Linked DNA regions of Homo sapiens. The main gene of each other region encodes a partner of the protein of the gene in region 2 in a complex. Links are inferred from orthologs where the notes say so. Each region holds a gene or a part of one and is shown on either strand. Other genes may lie near its edges.

What was found. The genes of interacting proteins can lie anywhere in the genome.
Region 1: the proteins of SGSM1 (region 2) and RAB9A are in contact, whole or in part, in a crystal structure (PDB 4QXA), measured with the Mus musculus proteins. The link is inferred for Homo sapiens from one-to-one orthologs. Residues at the interface, in NP_766306.2 of Mus musculus: Leu256, Leu257, Tyr258, Gly259, Lys260, Asn261, Asn262, Tyr277, Asn294, Met297, Asn298, Gln361; in NP_062747.1 of Mus musculus: Phe37, Thr39, Ile40, Gly41, Val42, Glu43, Phe44, Leu45, Trp61, Arg68, Phe69, Leu72, Phe76.

Annotation. Positions count from the first base shown.
Region 1 is NC_000023.11:13,686,836-13,690,584, reverse strand, and holds the start of RAB9A (ras-related protein Rab-9A), read right to left. Parts: upstream 1,458-3,749; 5' UTR 1,297-1,457; intron 1,179-1,296; exon of another isoform or gene 685-1,178; intron 1-684. UniProt on the Homo sapiens protein: The small GTPases Rab are key regulators of intracellular membrane trafficking, from the formation of transport vesicles to their fusion with membranes.
Region 2 is NC_000022.11:24,809,108-24,812,856, reverse strand, and holds part of SGSM1 (small G protein signaling modulator 1), read right to left. Parts: intron 1-3,749. UniProt on the Homo sapiens protein: Interacts with numerous Rab family members, functioning as Rab effector for some, and as GTPase activator for others. Promotes GTP hydrolysis by RAB34 and RAB36.

The sequences.
Region 1 (3,749 bases), on a different chromosome or scaffold from region 2:
AGAAGTGATAGCACTAAGGTATTATTTCCCTTATCTCTAAAACCCGGCTTGGAGTCAAAGCCAATGATGTTCTACTTAGTGTTTGCCTATCTACTCTAACATTCCAAATAATAAACGAAAAAATATGCCCAGATCCCAAAAGTCTCCAGAAGAGAAACTTTGTAGTATAAACGAGGAATTTACCACAGCAGACACAAAAATACTAAAAGCACCAGACTGCCACAGCATTGTCTTAGATTTAGGAATCCAAATAACTACTAAAGTTCTAGAGAAGCAATCATGATAACTTCATAATCTTCTAAAGGAAAAACTAAAGGCTGGCTTCTTAAAAGTTCCTAACTGAATCGTTCCAGGTTTCTTTATCTCTAGTTTTGCTACACTGGACAGCTTCTGAGAGTACAGGCAATGTAGGGATTTTCCATTACAATGGTGCCAGAGACCGAAGGACAAACACATTTTTAAAGAAGCAATCAAATTCTGCCCATTGATTTTTATCAGGACGCTAAAATCCTATGAAAAGATTGTGGTCACGTGCCGATTTGGAAACTAGCAGAAAAGTTATTCCTCAAAAGAACTGTAGTCACGAGATGTGTCATCCCTTACCAAAAAAAAAAAAAAGCAATACGTCCACCAACTATTTATTAAGTTCAGCACTTAAATTTCTCATTTTGCCTTTTTACTTACCAAGTTGGAAGAAAAAAGGGAACGCGATTGTGAAACGTTAGCCAGCGTCTGAATCAGATAATGCCCCCAAAACGCCTGCAGCCTCTAAGATTGGCTTTACTTTCCGAATTCCTCACCCGAGTGGTCGTAAGACATCGAGCAAACACGTTCTGCTAGGTGGAACTTCAGAGGTCGCCAAAATCAAGTCATGGGAGCGCCTTTGTTTTCCCTACATTAATCATTCGGGTGTAGGATTTGGTTTGGGGTCTGTGGATGTGTGTCCCGGAGTGGTTGGGGGAAAGGCTGGCGTGTACGTGTGTTCCCAGGTGACCGGGTGTATTTCTCCGTGTGTATGTGCACGGGTGTCCGGGCTTTTGTATCTCCCTTTCTCCAGTGTTTGTGTGTGTTTCTGTGAGTCCCTCTCCCCAAGGGTGTGGGGACCGTCTTTCCTCCTGCGTCAGAGAGGAGGCAGGGAGACAACCAGCCGTCCTCTCTCCCGGGGCGGCCTTGTGACCCGCGCTAGCCCCGCGCGCACCGCACCCCGCCCCAGCTGCCCGAGGCCCGAGCCGCCCCCTCAGACCCCGACACCCGCGCACTCCGCCCGGTCCCGAAGGAGTCCCGAGTCCCGCTCACCTCGCGGCCACACGAAAGACGACCCGGGAGCTCTGGGCCGGCCCGTCTGGGCGCAATGAGGACAGAGAGAGGGTCGGGGACCTGCACAGCAGGAGGCAGCCGCGGTAGCGCAGCCAGGCTCCCGCTCCAGCTGCTCCCGTCCAGCGCGGAGGGAACAACATGGCGACGGGCCGGGGCGGGGCCAGGGAAAAAGCGGGGCGGGGCCTGGAAGGCGGGGTCCCGCGGCCGAGACCCTGGGGGACGGGCGCGGGGAAGGTGGAGCCGAGGCAGGCGGGGCCTGGATCGTGCTTTTCCTTCGGGTCGATTGCTCCTGAAGTGTCCTCCCGTCTGCGTTCGGGCGACAGCGAGTACGAAATAACTGTCATTTTGAAAAGTTTACGTAAAGTGGAAATAAACAGACCTCATGAGCACAGTCACAGGATGTCGTGATTACAATGATAAAAACGACTAGTCAAACGGACAAAGAACAAACAGGTGGATGAAAAATGAAAACAGTTGTGATACTGTGGAAAAACAAGAACTTTTTAAATGAAGCTATTAAAACTTTCCTTTAATCTTGTTAAAATACTGCCTCTGTCATCTCTGAATAGAAAGCGATGGTGCAAAAGGTGGTATTGGAGAAGCTCTCCTTAAGTCCTTGCTTTATGTATGAAGTTGAGTGCATGGATCCTATGATACAGAACCCTACAGGCGGGAGGGACTCATAGGGACATCTCAATACGTTTTGTACGGTGATTTAGTTTGTTTATCAGAAAACCAAATACTGCGTGTTCTCACTCATAAGTAGAAGCTAAATGATGAGAACTCATGGTCACATAGAGAGGAACAAGAGACACCAGGGCCCACTTGAGGGTTGAGGGTGTGAGGAGGAAAAGGAGCAGAAAAAAACTAGGTATCAAGTACTATGCTTATTACCTGGGTAACTAAATAATCCGTACACCAAGCCCTTGCAACAGGCAGTTTACCTACATGACAAACCTACACATGTACCCCTAAACCTAAAATAAAAGCTTTTTAAAAAAGATTTAGTCTGTTTATTTTCCAAGACAAAGATCTCACTTTTATGATGCTGGGGCTCACAACAAGTTAAATAATCTCCAGCTTTTTGGGGAGTCATTTTCAGGTAATGACTTTTCATTCAGCACTAGAAAGGTCATGTTTGAGAAAGTTCCTCACAAATTAAAAAGGCAATTTTAGAATGCTTCTGAAAACGACACATAAGCTTAAATAATTGTTTTCTCATAAACAGAAATCTATTTCTTATCTGCAGGTCATTTCCCCAAGGAAATATGTATAAACGTTTATAAAATACAAATCTGTTAAATTGGGGGGAAGAAGAAATATACACTATCTTGTTTTAAAACACATATTAAAAGTACACAGTAAAACATTATATATGAACACTAGAGTTAATTTTCCAATAGAAAAAAAAGTCATGTACATTGGGTCAAATTGCAACAAGCAATCCACAGGGTAATTAAAGAAATGCCACCTGAAAATCGTATATCCTAACCATAGTCAAGGAGTGATCAAATAGGAGTTTATCTGTGCAACTGCTAATGCCAACTAGCTATTAACAAGTGATCTCATAAAATTATTGTATTTTGAGTTAAAATAAACCTTGACAAACCCAACAGCTTTCATAAAAATGTTCTAAGAAGGTTCCATAAGTGACTCTCAGGCTGTTCCAAAATGTAAGAAGGCATTCAAACATATTTGAGTGTAGCTTATAGTACCTTAAGAAAGAATAAGCTTAGAAAGTTACTTTCTCTAAAATTACTATCAGTTGGATACTAGCCAACTGACATTTAAGAAAGTTAGTATATTCTGGTCTCTTCCACCATTCACTTCTTAACCACATTTCTATGTCAGTGCAAGAGTAAAGTGGGTTAAAAGATTTTTCTCTGAAGGGCAAGTTTGGGGGATTTTTGTTATTGGATGTGTGTGGTTGGTAAGCTGATGCAAGTTGGATAGACAGTTGCTATCTCTCTTGCTCCATAAACTTGTTCCTTGATGAAAACATTAAAGAACTAACCTAGTTTGACTCCCTTCATCTAACGAAGATTTTCATCTTTATATTCTGTAAACACCAATGCATCACTCACGGGAGAGAAAGAGGCCAAAGTTGCTATGCATAAATGATTCTTTTACTTAAATAACACCTACTTATTACTATAAGTACTAGGAGTTAATACCCCATCTCAAGCTGGAGACTGAAAGAAATCACTTCTGGCATCTCTGATGAAAAGCTACAAGTGGCTGGGCGTGGTGGCTCACGCCTGTAATCCCAGCACTTTGGGAGGCCGAGGCCGGTGGATAATGAGGTCAGGAGTTTGAGACTAGCCTGGCCAACATGGTGAAACCCCGTCTCTACTAAAAATACAAAAAAATTAGCTGGGTGTGGTGGCGTGCGCCTGTAATCCCAGCAACTCAGGAGACTGAGGCAGGAGAAT
Region 2 (3,749 bases):
GGCCTGGCACATAGTAGATGCTTGATAAATATTTGTGGGAGGAAGGAAGGAAGAACGGAAGTGGGGGAGAAAGAAAATAACAGAGGGAGGGAGAAAGTTTTCTTCTAAGAGTTGGCAGAAACTGTCTATCCTGGTCCCTGCTATTAGCTGAAACTTCCTGAAGTACAGCCCTAAGCAAAACCCTCCCTTGCTCATAAATCTTCTATAGCTCCCCATTATCCACTATGGGAAGTTCAAATGGCACAGCCTGGCACATACAGCCCTGCACAAGCTGGGACTAATGGACCTTTCCTGCCCCATTTCCTTCCCCTGCACATGCCTGAAGCCAAGCTGTGTTTCCAGGGACTTTTCTGAAGCTCATAGCTGCCCACCACTGCCCACTGTAAGCCAAGGTCATGAGGCCATCCCCCTAGATCTTGGCAACATGAGGTTTGAATCCTGACTTCTCCACGGACTGACAGTGGGACCTTAAAGCGAGCTGCATAACATCTCTCTGCCTCCAGTTCCTCATCTATCATGGAAAGAGATGATGGTTCTCTCCCTTAGGGCTTTTATGAGGAGTGAAGGGGATAATGCTCAGAAAGTTCATGGCACAATGCCCAGCACAGAGGAAGCCAGAAGCCCCCAGCAAACACGTAGGAAATTAGGAATGCCTAATTTTTCTTTTCTTTTTTTTTTTCTTTTTTTGAGACGGAGTCTTGCTTTGTCACCCAGGCTGAAGTGCAGTGACGCCATCTCAGTTCCCTGCCACCTCCACCTCCCGGGTTCAAGCGATTCTCCTGCCTCAGCATCCCGAGTAGCTGAGATTACAGGCGCATGCTACCACACCCGGCTAATTTTTGTATTTTTTGTAGAGATGAGGTTTCACCATGTTGGGCCAGGCTGGTCTTCAACTCCTGACCTCAAGTGATCCACTCAGCTTGGCCTCCCAAAGTGCTGTTACAGGCATGAGCCACCATGCCTGGTCATAATTTTTTTTTTTTTTTTTGAGACAGGGTCTCGCTCTGTTGCCTTGGCTGAAGTGCAGTGATGCGATCACAGCTCACTGCAGCCTCAACTTCCTGGGCTCAAGGGATCCTCCTGCCTCAGCCTCTCAAATAGCTGTGACTACAGGCATGCACCACAATGCCTGGCTATTTTTATTTTGTTTTCTGTAGAGATGGGGGTCTTGCTATGTTGCCCAGGCTGGTCCCAAACTCCAAGCCTGAAGTGATCATCCCACCTTGGCCTCCCAAAGGGCTGGGATTACAGGCATGAGCCACAGTGCCCGGCCAGGAATTGCTAATGTTATTACATAGTCCAATCTCTCTTCTATGGCCTAAGTCCATTTTACAGGTGAGAAACTGAGGCATTCTGGGGAAGTTTCCCCTAAATGACATGGCTAGGGAGCCAAGACTTCGTTCCCTGCCCCTGCCCACCCCCACCCCGGCTTTAGACTCCAAATATGCATTCAAGACAATCTAAAAGCAGTAAGAATGAGTTGTTCAAGAACAGTACATTCGTATCAAATTAGCCTAGAGAAGTGAAGGGCGCAGCAGGTGCAGGATGGGTAGGGTGAGCGGGGAGCAGATTTTCCTGCCTTAACAAGAGTTATTCTGGGCTGGCCACTTCTTTGTGCTCCTAGTGGTGGTGGGCTGAGGGGGTGTCTTGTGTATTGCAGGAATGTGAGCAGCATCCCTGGCCTCTTCCCACTAGATGCTGATAGCACCCCCAACTGTGACAACCAAAAATGTTTCCAGACATTGCCAAATGTCCCCTGGAGTAGGGTTGCCAGATTTAGCAACACATACTCATACTAAAAACTTACTCACTGTTTATCTGAAAGTCAAATTTAACTGGGCGACCTGGATGTTATCTGGCAACCAAACCTAGGGACGGGAGACAAAACTGCTCCCCTTCATTAAGAACCACTGGGTCACAGTAAAACTGCAGGGTCCCCATGGTAACGTCAATTGCTTCTCTCGTTTTTCTCCAACCTTCTTAGCAAGTCCTGCCTGCCTCTCCCATCTCATCACCCCTAACCCAGAGGCTGGGAGGCTCAGTTCTCCAAACAGGCTCTGTTCAGCAGCTATGATGATGGCTCCCCAATTACAGCCCTTCCACCAGCTCCGGTCGCAGAGCTAAATGTAGCTTCCACTCCAGGACCTGCCTCATCTCCCTGTCTCCTTCCTGGGGTCTCATCTGCCTCCCACCAGCCCCTGCATTCTCCCCTCCAATTAAGAGGCTTTCTAGGCCCAGCCCAGAGGCAGGAAAACAAGGCAGTTAGTCACTTTGCTTCCATTATCAACTGGCATCACATGGCTGGCTCCTTTAATGGCAGTTGTTATGGCAACGGGAAGCCAGTCCCTGCTCGCTCTGGGAACCAAAACAAAATTAAGGGTTGGCAGGGAGGGTAAAGGAAGCCAGGAAGGAGCCAAGATAGAGCTGGTCAGATTTAACTGGAGGAAATCACGCTGAGGCCACCTTGTTTCCAGCTTTCTCTTGGTGGTACCGAGGACAGAGGGAAAAAAAAAAAGGATGCTTGCCCTGGAGGAGCTCAGGCTAACGTGGTGGGTGTTCTCGCAGGGTTTATCTTGCCAGCTGAATCATTTTCATCCCCATTATGAATAAACGGAAACCCACACACTGATAAAGGTAAAGACAGATCTTGTCTAAGATTGTGCAGTGAACAGGCCAGCAATTTCAGCTCCATCACCTTCTTTCCCTGTTCTCGATGTCCTCCCCATTCCTTTCCCTTGCTTTTGGGATAAGACCACATGTTCCGCCTTCTCCGCATCTGCACCTTTCTCCTTTGTCTCTGCTCCGGTCACTTCGGTTCCTTCAAATTCACAGTGTTCCCTCCAGCCACAAAGCTTCTGCATGTACAAAACCTTCTGCCAGGAATGGTTTTTCTTAGTGTCTCTCAACCCTCTTATCTTCACCTTAAAGTCCTACTCATCTTGCACCTGTCTTCTGAAACGTCATATCCTGGGCCCCTGCACATGGTCAGTTGTCCCTGTTTTGGGTTCTTGCAGCCCCGGGTGCCTCTCCTTCACATCTCTGTTCACAGCCTGTAATTATCCTTGTAATTTTGATAAGGTAACTGTTGGGAGTGTGTTTCCTCCGCTGCAAGGTCAGCCCCAGGAGGACAGGGACAGGGCCCATCTACAAGGGGCCTGTCCCTGCTATATCCACAGAACCTAGCCCAGGGTCTGACACACAGCCCTCAGTAAATAAACACATCTGGGGTTGGAATCCAGCTCTAGTTGAGCCCAAAGTTCTTCTTGACCTGCCTCATGGGTGCTGTGTCCAGCTGGCTCCCCAGGCCAGCACTGGACAGTTTCCAGCTCCCAGCCTCTGTTGGCCCCTTCGTGGCTGCAGTGGCTCTGGCAAACCTTGCAGAGCTGCCCAGCCTATCTAGAGATGTCGATTGTTAAGGCACTCCTTCTAGAAAGAAGGCTGGGGAAACAGATGTACACACAGAAGACAGATATACACACAGACACATGTAGATATGTGTACATACAATGCAGTCTCTGGGTGAGGCTGTGACAGGCAGAGATGTGGCTCCTTTGAACCCAGAGAGTGGGGAGGAGGGAGATCTGATTTGACTCTCAGATTTCTAGGCAAAGAGCTTTCCCTTCTGTTCCACTAGAGACTGGCTCTCTGACACTGAGAGAGATGCTCCCCAAAGAGGTAAGCAAAGGAAGGAAAGGACAGGGGAGACGTGCTTTGGGGGGCACCGAGTTGTTGCCATGTTCTTAGGGTAC